Linked DNA regions of Homo sapiens. The protein of the gene in region 2 purifies or fractionates together with the protein of the main gene of each other region. This does not show direct contact. Each region holds a gene or a part of one and is shown on either strand. Other genes may lie near its edges. The genes, in order: GLB1, SFXN5 and SLC6A15.

What was found.
Region 1: the proteins of SFXN5 (region 2) and GLB1 purify together in Homo sapiens (co-immunoprecipitation; 3 studies listed by BioGRID and IntAct, with this or other methods). This does not show direct contact.
Region 3: the proteins of SFXN5 (region 2) and SLC6A15 purify together in Homo sapiens (affinity purification with mass spectrometry; 2 studies listed by BioGRID and IntAct, with this or other methods). This does not show direct contact.

What each region holds. Positions count from the first base shown.
Region 1 is NC_000003.12:32,999,430-33,003,180, reverse strand, and holds part of GLB1 (beta-galactosidase isoform a preproprotein), read left to right. Parts: intron 1-3,751.
Region 2 is NC_000002.12:73,069,912-73,073,662, reverse strand, and holds the start of SFXN5 (sideroflexin-5), read left to right. Parts: upstream 1-1,950; 5' UTR 1,951-1,957; coding exon 1,958-2,059; intron 2,060-2,338; exon of another isoform or gene 2,339-3,203; intron 3,204-3,751. UniProt on the Homo sapiens protein: Mitochondrial amino-acid transporter. Transports citrate. Does not act as a serine transporter: not able to mediate transport of serine into mitochondria.
Region 3 is NC_000012.12:84,864,067-84,867,817, reverse strand, and holds part of SLC6A15 (sodium-dependent neutral amino acid transporter B(0)AT2), read left to right. Parts: exon of another isoform or gene 1-588; intron 589-624; coding exon 625-784; intron 785-3,751.

The DNA.
Region 1 (3,751 bases), on a different chromosome or scaffold from region 2:
TCAGTTCTATTTGGACCTGTCCCAAAATATAGAGAAACCATAAAGTTATTTAATTTTATTACTTTAAGACTGAGGAGGAAGCAAAAAAGTGTGATTTGCGTCAGCTGCAGAGCCTTTTGGGGTTCTGAAGGAAGGGGAGAATTAATCTTCTGTGTATTTCATTGAGATCTATTTAACCTCTTATTTCTAAGCAAGCCTTGTAAGAGGCTTTTACCTTTTTTTCTTTTCAATTCTCCTCTTTTTCTTCTCTTTCTCCCAGGTAAGCATCACAGTGATTCATGAGTTCGGTGTGTGAGAGCCTTTAACCTTGGGAACTGGACCTTTGTCTTTCCCATTTTAAGTCCTGCAAGTGTCTAAATGTTTTCTTTCAGAGTGTGACAAAGGCAGCATTCACCCTGAGCTTATTGTTGCTTTTAAAGGAGCTCCCAAAAAATTTTGGAAAATTTTAAACTACAACTTAAAACAGTAGTGAGACCAGGCACAGAGGCTCACACCTGTAATCCCAACATTTTGGGAGGTGAAAGCAGGAGGATCACTTGAGGCCAGGAGTTTGAGACAAGCCTAGGCAACATAGTGAGATTCTATGTCTATTTTTAAAAATAGTTTTTAAGTTAGCTGGCCATGATGGCTAACAACAACACGTGCATACCTCCCCCCGATAGTTTCACACCTATAGTCCCAGCTCCTCAAGAGGCTGACACAGGAGGATCGCTTAAGCCCAAGAATTCGAGGCTGCAATGGACTATGATAGTGCAGCTGCAGTCTAGTCTGAATGACAGCGTGAGACCCTGCCTCATAAGGAAGGAAGGAAGGATGGAAGGAAGGAAGGAAGGGAGGGAGGGAGGGAGGGAGGGAGACTTTTGTTTTAAATTCCATTTATCCAGATAGTTTAAAACAGACAGACAAACACATGTATCTGTCTGATCAACAAAAAAGTAGGTCAGGCATTTCCAGGAACCTCACATTTATGAAACTATTATTATTGCCTTAGTGATTACAGCAAAGGGTGGAGAGTCTGCCAGGGTCAAGCCGTGGTCAGAGAAAGTCACTTTGTCATGGAACTATTTTAACTGAGACTGCCTTAGGAAGCCCCAGAAACCACTGCTTGGTCCCCATGGGGCTGACTTCATTAAGAGTGTATCTACTTTTAGATCATATTCAGCAACACGTGCATACCTCCCCACCAAAAATAATTGCAAAAGCATAACTTTTTAAGAGAAATAAAAATCAATGTATATATTTTTTAAATAGAATTTTTAAAGGTAAATTATATTAAAGTGTTTTTCATTGGTTCTAATCAAGGAGGGAAGGCAAATGTTTTTCTTTTAGTGAACAATATTCTTTAAAACTCTTAAACTGGGAGCAGAGGAACGTGAAGAATTCTTTCAGAAGGGCTTCATGTCACCTCTTCAACGAATCTTTTCTTGGCAGAATTATCAACAAGTAGCAGCAGCCATGAGTGCTACTAAGTGTATATTGAATATCACTCTCCTGCGTGCGGAGAATCTCGCCTCAAACAAAATGGACAAAGACTTTCCCTTCCTAGAGCCTGTGTTATAGCTGGAAATAGCTCATAAACTAGTCATCAAACAAAAGATATGAATTTCAAATCATGATAATAACTAGAAGAAAAAGAAAAAATGAAAGGATAGTGAGTGACTTGGAATGGAAAGCCCAGCATTAAGGAGGAGGGTCGTGGCCCTGCCTGAGTGATGAGAAGGCTTCAGGCTGAGGTGAGTAGTGTTTGCACATGGGGACGAGCTGATGCCCAAGCAAAACTAACTGAAAGTAATTGGGGAGCTGTGTGTGGTGATGCACATCTGAAGATCCAGCTTCTCGGGAAGCTGAGGCAGGAGGATCGCTTGAGGGCAGGAGTTTGAGGCTGTATTGTGCCTGTGAATAGCAACTGGAGTCCAACCTTGGCAATGTAGCAAGATGTAAGAGTGAGAGAGAGAGAGAGAAGAGAGAAGACAGGAAGGAGGAGAAGAGAAGAAGGAGAAGGAGAAGAGGAGAGGAGAAGAGAAGAGAGAAAGGAAGAACAAGAAGGAGAAGAAAGAGAAGGAAAGAACAAGAAGTAGTGGAGAGTGGAGTGAGCAAGGGGGAGTGCGGCAGACACAAGGAGGAAAGGAGGAAGGTATGGGCTGTGGACCACAGGAAGGAGGTTTGAAACAGGAATGTGTGAAAAGAATCCTATTTTCACTTTGGCAGCTATGCAGAGCCTAGATTCTAGAGTTAATAAAGTCAAGAGACTGTGAGGAGGCTGCAGCAGTCTAAGACAACATTGATTTATGACTTGCTCTGGAAGTCAGGCTGTGAGGATAGAGAGAAATGGAAGACTGATGGTCTAATAATGAAGTCACTAGGATCTCACCATACCTTAGCTCTGTAGTCCAGTGCAGTAGCTTCTTGTATAATATTGTTGGGTTTTTTCTGTTTGTTTTGTTGTTGTTTTTTTTAACTGAGTCTTGCTCTATCACCCAGGCTGGAGTGCAGTGGTGCAATCTCAGCTCACTGCAACCTCCACCTTCCAGGTTCAAGCGATTCCCCTGCCTCAGCCTCCTGAGTAGCTGGGATTACAGGCACCCACCACCATGCCTGGCTAATTTTTGTATTTTTAGTAGAGACAGGGTTTCACCATATTGACCAGGCTGGTCTCGAACTCCTGACCCCAAGTGATTTGCCCGCCTTGGCTTCCCAAAGTACTGGGATTGCAGGCATGAGCCACCACACCTGGCCTTGTATAATATTCTTTACAAGAACGTTCATTTTTAACCACATATGGTTAAGTTTAAATTAATTAAATGTGAAAATTCAATTCCTCCTTCACACTTTTTTAAAAAATAGCTACTCTTTATAGTATCACTAAAGTTGGACACATGCATATCCCATGACCCAGCAATTCCATTCCTAGCATTCCCCTCCTGTAAGAAACATGTGCATGGCCAGGCGAGGTGGCTCATGCCTGTAATCCCAGCACTTTTTGGGAGGCTGATGGGGGAGGATCACTTGAGACCAGGAGTTTGAGACCAGCCTGGGCAACATGGCGAAACCTCATCTCTAAAAAAGTACAAAAATTAGCCAGGCATGGTGGGGCATGCCCGTAGTCCCAGCTATGTGGGAGGCTAAGGTGGGAGGTTGACACTACAGTGAGTCGTGATGGTGCCACTGCATTCTAGCCTGGGTGTCTGGAGTGAGATCTTGCCTCAAAAAGGAAAAAAGAAAAAGAAAAAGGCCAGGCATGGTGGCTCACGCCTGTAATCCCAACACTTTGGGAGGCCGAGGTGGGCGGATCTCTTGAGGCCAGGAGTTGGAGACCAGCCTGGGCAACATGGCAAAACCCCATCTCTACCAAAAATACAAAAATGAGCTGGGCATGGTGGTGCACGCCTGTATTCCCAGCTACTCAGAAGGCGGAGGAACAAGAAGCTCTTGAACTTGGGAGGTGGAGGCGGAGGCTGCAGCGAGCCAGGATTGCACCACTGCACGATAACCTCCCCAGAGCAATGGCTGCTGCTTCTCTCCACCCTCCCAATCTCAAGCAAGGGCCTCTTCTGACCAACGCTAACCCAGAACCATCCAGGGAAGGGGATCCAGGGAAAACAATTCCCAGCTTACCTACCAGGTGCACAGTCCACCCGGCATGTGAGGGCCCATCTCTTGGATGCTTATGAAATGGAACTTGAGGTTTGAGAAAGGACCAAACCTCCACTTTGTTCACCTGCGATTTGGTCAAGAGTTGGCTTGGCCTGTG
Region 2 (3,751 bases):
TTCCTCTGGGCTTTATTCACTCCCAGCCCTGGCCCTGACCTTTGTGGGCCTCCCTAATGCCCAGGGCATGGATGGCTTCAGAGGAGTTTTTGAATCGAAGCCCAGGGTCCTTGTTGATGTTTCTTCTCCTAGCCACACTTGGAGGAAAGTTGCAGGTGGGTTGGGCAGGGAGCAGGCATGGTTCTGCTTTGCTGTTTGTCTTCCTAGTTAAGGCTCTTTATAAAGAGCTTGTTCTTCATGTTTTAAGCACTTTATGAAGAATAAAACATTCATGTACTGCAGGTGGCTCTGTTGTGTTCCTGTTTTGGAATGAACAGTTACAGGAGGCTGCTGTGGGAGAAAGCACCTTAAATCAAGGTGATGGGATTCTTGGATGACACTGTCCCTGCCCCTTATAAGGGGGCAGCAGCACAGTGTTGCCCAGCAGCCTGAACTTAGTCTTTTCTGACTCCCAGGGTACCCACATTTATTGCGCACCTAAGATGGGCCCATTTATTGGTAATACAGAGGGTAAGAAATGGATTCCTATTCTCAAGTTGCATGGTCTAGCAGGGGAAGATAAGATACAAATCCAAGATACAAATAGTTCTTCATGGCTAGATAGAATCTCTAAGATAAGATACAAATCCAAGATACAAATTGTTCTTCGTGGCTAGCTAGAATCTCCCCCTAGCTTTATGAAAAGTGTTTCTTGTGGTTCAACTACTAGAGGATGAAAAACTTTGACTGCTACAGCTCATGTAGTGTCCAGAAACACTGGCAGACATGAGCCAACCCTGCACTCCACCACGAGACTAATGAGACCCAAAGTGGAGTTCCCTAGAAGACCAAATATTTCTACTGTCATCTTGGGCAAAACAGGCAGCTCCCGAAGTCTGGCTCACTGACCAGGTAATTCAGCTGGGAATCTTCAGCTAATCCATTCTACAACTGTATGTGTTTATTATCCATACTGATCCTTACTCCACAATCTGTAATACTCCCCCTTACCTAACACCCTCCCCACCCACCCTAGTCCCAAGTTCTCCTCCTGCCCAGGAATTAGGCCCAGGAGGGATCTTCCTTGGTTGGCCAGACAAGGTGAAAGCTGCCAGGGCTCTTAATCCCCCACTGATGAACTCACAGCCAACACTTATTTGAGTCTCTACTGTGAGCCCTTTTATGTCTGGCTCTGAAAACTGAAGTGAATCAAAAAGTCATAGCCCCTGCCCTGTGAACTTTACAGTAAGAAAGACTGTCCAGAACAGTAAGTAGTTGTGAGTGCAAAAGAGAAGTGCTGGGTGCCACGGAGCCTCTGTGGGATTTTGTGCAAGCAGAGTGATGGACTGGGAAATGCAATGTTTAGGCTAAAGCCAGAAAGCCAGCATCAGGCGAAGATTTAGTCTTCCGGGTACAGAATGTTCAGGGGTCGGGAGGCGGGCAGGCCCCAGCATGCTCCAGGAACTGAGTGTCAGGGCAGCCGGAGAGCACAGGACGAGTGGGCAGGGTGGCGACGGAGGAAAGTACGAGAAGGTCCGCAGTGCAACTCCTTGGAGAAAGCCTTCCGAGGTTAACCCTACTCCGCCTGGAGTCTTTGCCCATCTGGTCCCAGGTTCCCCCTTGAATGGGACCCTTCTGCGCTGCCTGGCCCCAGGAGCGACGCCCACGGCAGCAACTCTAACTTCTGGGGGCAACTAAGCAGCGAGGGGTGGCCCGTGGTCGTCGTACAGGAACACCTTTCCTGGACTGCCGACCTTGCACCTTGCAACGCGGACAGCGGGCACCGAGACCTCTCCGGACGGCCGCAACTCTCCGCAGTCTACGGTTGTAAGCGCCGCGACGCGAAAAACTACACTCCCCACAACGCCTTGCGCCTCCCGCTCGCTGCGGTTGATTAGGGCCAATCGGGAGAGGCAGCTGTGGCGGGGGCCGAGGAGGGACATTTTAAAAGGGCCGGAGATTGCGGGCGTCAGTGGCCATGGCGGATACAGCGACTACAGCATCGGCGGCGGCGGCTAGTGCCGCTAGCGCCTCGAGCGATGCACCTCCTTTCCAACTGGGCAAACCCCGCTTCCAGCAGGTGAGGACCGGGCTGTGGTCTGCGGGCCGGCGGGTGGCAAAGAGAGGACGAGCAAACTCCCCTCCAAAGTCCCCTTCCGCCCAAGGGTCTCCCACCCGCGGCCAGCGGAGCCTGCAGCTAGCGCCAGGGGGGGAACCTCGGTCACAGTCACCCTTTTCCCATTGGTCAACGGGGCGGGCGCGGACTCCCATCTTGGCTTCCTATTGGCCCTTGGCGCCGTCACTCCCCGACTGCCCGCGCCCTCTAGCCTTTCCCGCCCGCGGCGCCCTGTGATTGGCCACCGGCGGCTGCGGTCAAGGTCCCGAGCGCCCGGCTTCGAGCGGCTGCTCAGGGTCGCTCCGGGTTGTGCAGCTGCCCGCCCGGGACGCAAAGTTCTAGTCTGGCCCTGGATGGGAAGTTGGCGTGGCCGGGATGCCTTCTAACTTTTTCCCCCGGTGGGGACTGACGTTCCTTTCGAGCTGCTGGCGGTGCCGCCGGGCAGCGTCGCGCCCCGCGGTCACTCCCCAGCCCTGGCCCCCAAGCCGGGCTCGGCGCGCGCAGCAGGTTGAGGGGGCGAGTGCCGAGGCGAGCGGCGGTCCGGCGTCCCCCGTCCCTGCTCTCCATCTCGGGCTGAGGATTCGCTGACGCAGCAAGCCGGCCGATGCCCTGAGGGGACGCAGCCAGGGCGTGCGGGGGAAACGCTGTGTCATCCCCTGGGGCCGTCGTCCCTCCGAGGGGCTGCCGCCTGGGAACCCCCCCCCAGCCTCTTCCTCGCTGTGTTCTCCGCGGAGGGTCTCCCGCGCCCGGGCCCCCGCGCCGCCGGGGACTGGCTCTGGGCACACCCGCTCAGGCTCTTCGGGGCACGGCGACAGGGGTCCTTTCCCTCCGGGACCTCCTCTGGGGCGTCGCCGACTCGGCCCTAGACTGCGGAGGCGGGGGTGGAACGCGGAGCCCGGGCGCCTGGTTGGGCCCGGAGACCGGAGCCGGGGAGGGGCCGCTCCCGCGCCGCAGACCCTCGGGCTCCCGCGCCTCCCGCACCAATGAGACGGAATTTATTAGGAAACAGGCAGAGAGACCGCTGAAGTGAACCGGGGCTTGCCAGGGGTGGGCGGCAGCCGAGGCGGCCAGAAAAGAACTTTGAAGGAAGAAAGGAAATTGTGCTAAGGTCGGTGCGGTGGCTTTTTTTTTCTTTTTTTGTTGTTGTGGTGGAAGGGGACTGGTTCCAGCAAGGGGGTGCCCCGAGCTTTGCTGATAATTAGGGAACTTGGCTCCTGAGCCGTCTGAAAAAAATGTCCCCAGTGTTTCTTAACAGGACTTTAATTCCTTTTAAAAGTAGGCCATCTCAGCATGTAGGTATCCGAGGCGAGACTGGCATCTTCCTTCCAGTGTAGGAGGCCATCTAGGGCGAGAGTGTCGGGGTGTCCCTGCCTGGACTTGAGTGACCTTATTACATTGCCTGTCCCCGCTCCCACCCCCATTCTGCTCGTTCTTAAAGGCTCAGTCGGGCCTGCCTCTCTGGCAAACACTTGCTCCCTTCTTCTCTGGTCCCATCAGATCGCAGGCTTCCTCCTGCACATCTCTTTGGCCACCTGAGTCAGATCCTCATAGCTCTCCATACAGTCTGCCCTGTGGTCTTCTAAATGTTTGCTGTGTGACGACTTGGTTTCCTCAAACCCCCTGTAGGCCTTTTGCAAGAAGGGGCTGATCTTGCCC
Region 3 (3,751 bases), on a different chromosome or scaffold from region 2:
TGGATGATCAGATTGCTCAACTCCATTATAATTTGTTTCCAAACTAATCTGTTCAGGCAAGATAAAGATATAAATGTGGATTGTTGCTGAGGTTAAGTCTGGTCAGATTTTTCCACTTATGCTTGAAAAGTAACCATATTTCAATCAAATATATAATATGTATATTTCATAATAATATAAGCAATATTAGTCTCATTATTAATTCAAAAATCTCATCTATATTTCAACACTGTAGAACATTATTAAATGAATAAATGACCTATAAATATTTGGTGCCTGAAGAAGTCACTTTGCTATTAATTATACGAATAGAGTATGGAAATTTATACTTTTAAATTTTTCTCTAAACTTTGACTCATTTATTATTGTACTTGGTAAATGAGTTTCCACGGGCTCAGGGAGATGAATTACTGTCTTAGAATAAATTTGTATGAATGTTGAGGCTACACCCAGGTAACCTAATTCCTAATAGGTTATATGCCATGTATCAGGAAAGGTATTGCCTGTTTATATGATGGACATGTTATAAAAGTTTTAAAAGTTTGAATATAATAATTTATAATAAAGTTTAAAGGCCTTGTCTCTGAATAGAGTCTCATTTTTTCATTTATTTCTTTTGTCTAGTTATCTGTTGTCTTCTGGCATTTTGTATTGGCCTGATATTTGTGCAACGCTCTGGAAATTACTTTGTTACAATGTTTGATGATTATTCTGCTACACTGCCTCTGCTAATTGTAGTCATTTTGGAGAATATTGCTGTATGCTTTGTTTATGGCATAGATAAGTAAGTATATTTGCTTTTATGTATTCACTTTTAATCTCTAGTTTGAAAACATCAATTATCAATGTTCATTTCATTTAGAAGAGGAAATAAATGAATAGAGGGAACAATTCTTTAAAAAATCAAACCTTTTGCAGGCTCTCACTGATTCAACAGTTTTGGTAAATTACATTTCCCTGTTGGGCAAATAGAATTATATAGGATGTAATAGTATGTAGAATTTTAGATCTTTGATTTGGTCCTGGTTATCAAATAGCTAACTTTCAGGATTTAGTAAGTATTGGCAGAGTTCCAAGAACCTTAGTTTCTTTTGAGTTCTTTATTGTTATCTACATTTCACAGATAAGGAAAATCAAGCTTAGAGAGACACCCTGTGACTTGCCTGTCACCCACCTGGACAGCAGCAGACCTGGGACTCATGTCCATTTCTGTTTAACTCTAAAGCTTATCTCCTAATTATATTGCTAAATTGATTTATAAGAGGAGTGCATGTGTCATAATGCCTTATATAGCAGGACAATATTGGGAAATGATATTTTCCCAGGTCTGAGATGTATATGTCATTTGCTGCACAGAAACATTATTTTTATATAGAGTCATTACTTAAATTCACTATACGCATAAATAATGAATAAATTCACTATTTATTCATAAATTCATATCAAATACACATACTTTTCACACCATTCAGGTACACTGATGTGAAAAGTGTATGTATTTGAAATGATGTGAAGCACCAGAGTTCTCTCAAGGGAAAAAGACCTTTGGAGGATTTGTCCAATACTTTTTATAGTCACTGTCTCTAATCACATACATGGACTGAGAGGTAGTAAGATCACCAAGCTCATTACAGCCCTATGTAAAGTAGTAATGCATGCACCTTAAGTGAAGGCCAGAGTCCTTTTAAGCAGCATAAAGAATATTGTGGGTATTGAATGAGCTTTATAACAAAGCTTAGAGAATGTTTTTTGTGGTTGCCAAAAGCTCCAGGTCAGGAAGCTTAGGAGAACTTACATTTAATAATCATGTACTGTATAATAATAGTAGTAATAGCTCTTAGTGTATAATCCAGCAATCATGCTACTTGGTATTTACCCAAAGGAGTTGAAAACTTATGCCCACTTAAAATTCTGCACGTGGGTGTTTATAGCAACTATATTCATAATTGCCCAAACTTGGAGGCAAACAAGATATCCTTTAGTAGGTAAATGGATAAATTGTCATACATCCAGACAATGAAATATTATTCAATCCATGAAAAGACACAGAGGAAATTTTAATGCACATTACTTAGTGAAAAAAGTCACATATGAAAAGGTTACATATTGTAAGATTCCCCTATATTATAATATGGAAAAGGTAAAACTATGGAAACAGTAAAAACATCAGCAGTTAACAGGGGTTGGGCCAGATCCAGGGATGTATACGCTGAGCACAGAATGTTTAGGGCAGTGAAACTACTCTGTATGACACTGTAATGGTGGACACACGTCATTATACATTTGTCCAAATCCAGAGAATGTACTACACAAACAGTGAATTCCAGTGTAAACTGTGGGCTCTAGGTAATAATGATGTGTTAACTTATGTAGGTTCATCAATTGTAACCAACATTCCACTCTCGTGGGGGTTGCTGATAATGGAGGAGGTTATGCACATATATTGGTAGGAGCTATATGGGAAATCTCTCTACTTTCAGCTCAATTTTGCTGTGAACCTAAAATTGCTCTTAAAAAATAAAGTGTGTAATCAAAAAATACTCCTTGTTAACTAACATGATCCATATCTTACAGATGGGAAACTGCCCCTTCTTTTACAGGAGGATACAATATGTTAGCTGTAGAGCCAGTACTGTAACCTTGACCTTCATTTCAAGGCCAGGTTTCTCTAAGCTTTACTAGGCTACTCAAAACTCATAACCTGTACCATGATGGAATTTGATATTGTTTTTGGACTGATCTGTAAATAAATACATTTGTAATTTAGATTTCCATTTAGACAGTTCGTTATTCATGATAGACTTACTAAAGAATCTCTCTTTTTAATGCTAGTGTTCCTGAATAACACTATTTATAACAACAGAAGAAAAAATACTACTACTAATAGATGCATCTGTCGATTTTGTACCATATGTGAGGTAGTATGCTAAGCATCCATTGTTTATGGTTCTAGTAATAACCCTCAAAGGTGGGTATTATATTATATTTTTGGAAAACACCAAAAATGAAGCTTAGAGAGATTAAGATATACATCAAAAGAACACAGAACTGTGATCTGAAATGAGGTCTCTTGGTCTTCAAAGTTCATATTTTTTCTAAAGGGCAGGTGTAGAATTCTTACATTGAAGATGTCCTTTAAGATTCTGGAGCAACTTGGAAGAAATGAAAAAGGGAAGAGAAACATAGAGATTAAGACTGGGCCAGGTGTGGTGGCTCAAGCCTGTAATCCCAACACTTTGGGAGGTCAAGGTGGGCAGATCACTTGAGGTCAGGAGATCGAGAGCAGTCTGACCAACATGGTGAAACGCCATCTCTACTAAAAATACAAAAATCAGCCGGGCGTGATGGTGGTCGCCTGTAATCCCAGCTACTCGGGAGGCTGAGGCAGGAGAATTGCTTGAACCTGGGAAGATGAGGTTGCAGTGAGTCGAGATTGTGCCACTGTACTCCAGCCTGGGCAACAGGTGAGACTCTGTCTCAAAAAAAAAAAAAAAAAAGAAAGAAAGAATGGACTCAAGAGACATAACAATTCATAACAATTAGTTATTATATGTAGACCTTTTTAGAAATTCGGAATGTAAAAAGAAGAGTTCAGAAAATATAACATTGATTAGGTATATTTGATGATATTAAGGAATTATTATTATGCTTTTAATGCTGTGATATTAAGGAATTATTACTTTTACTAATTATTACTAAAGTAATAGTAAAATTATTAGGAAAAGTAGTAATTAGTAAAATTATTTACTAA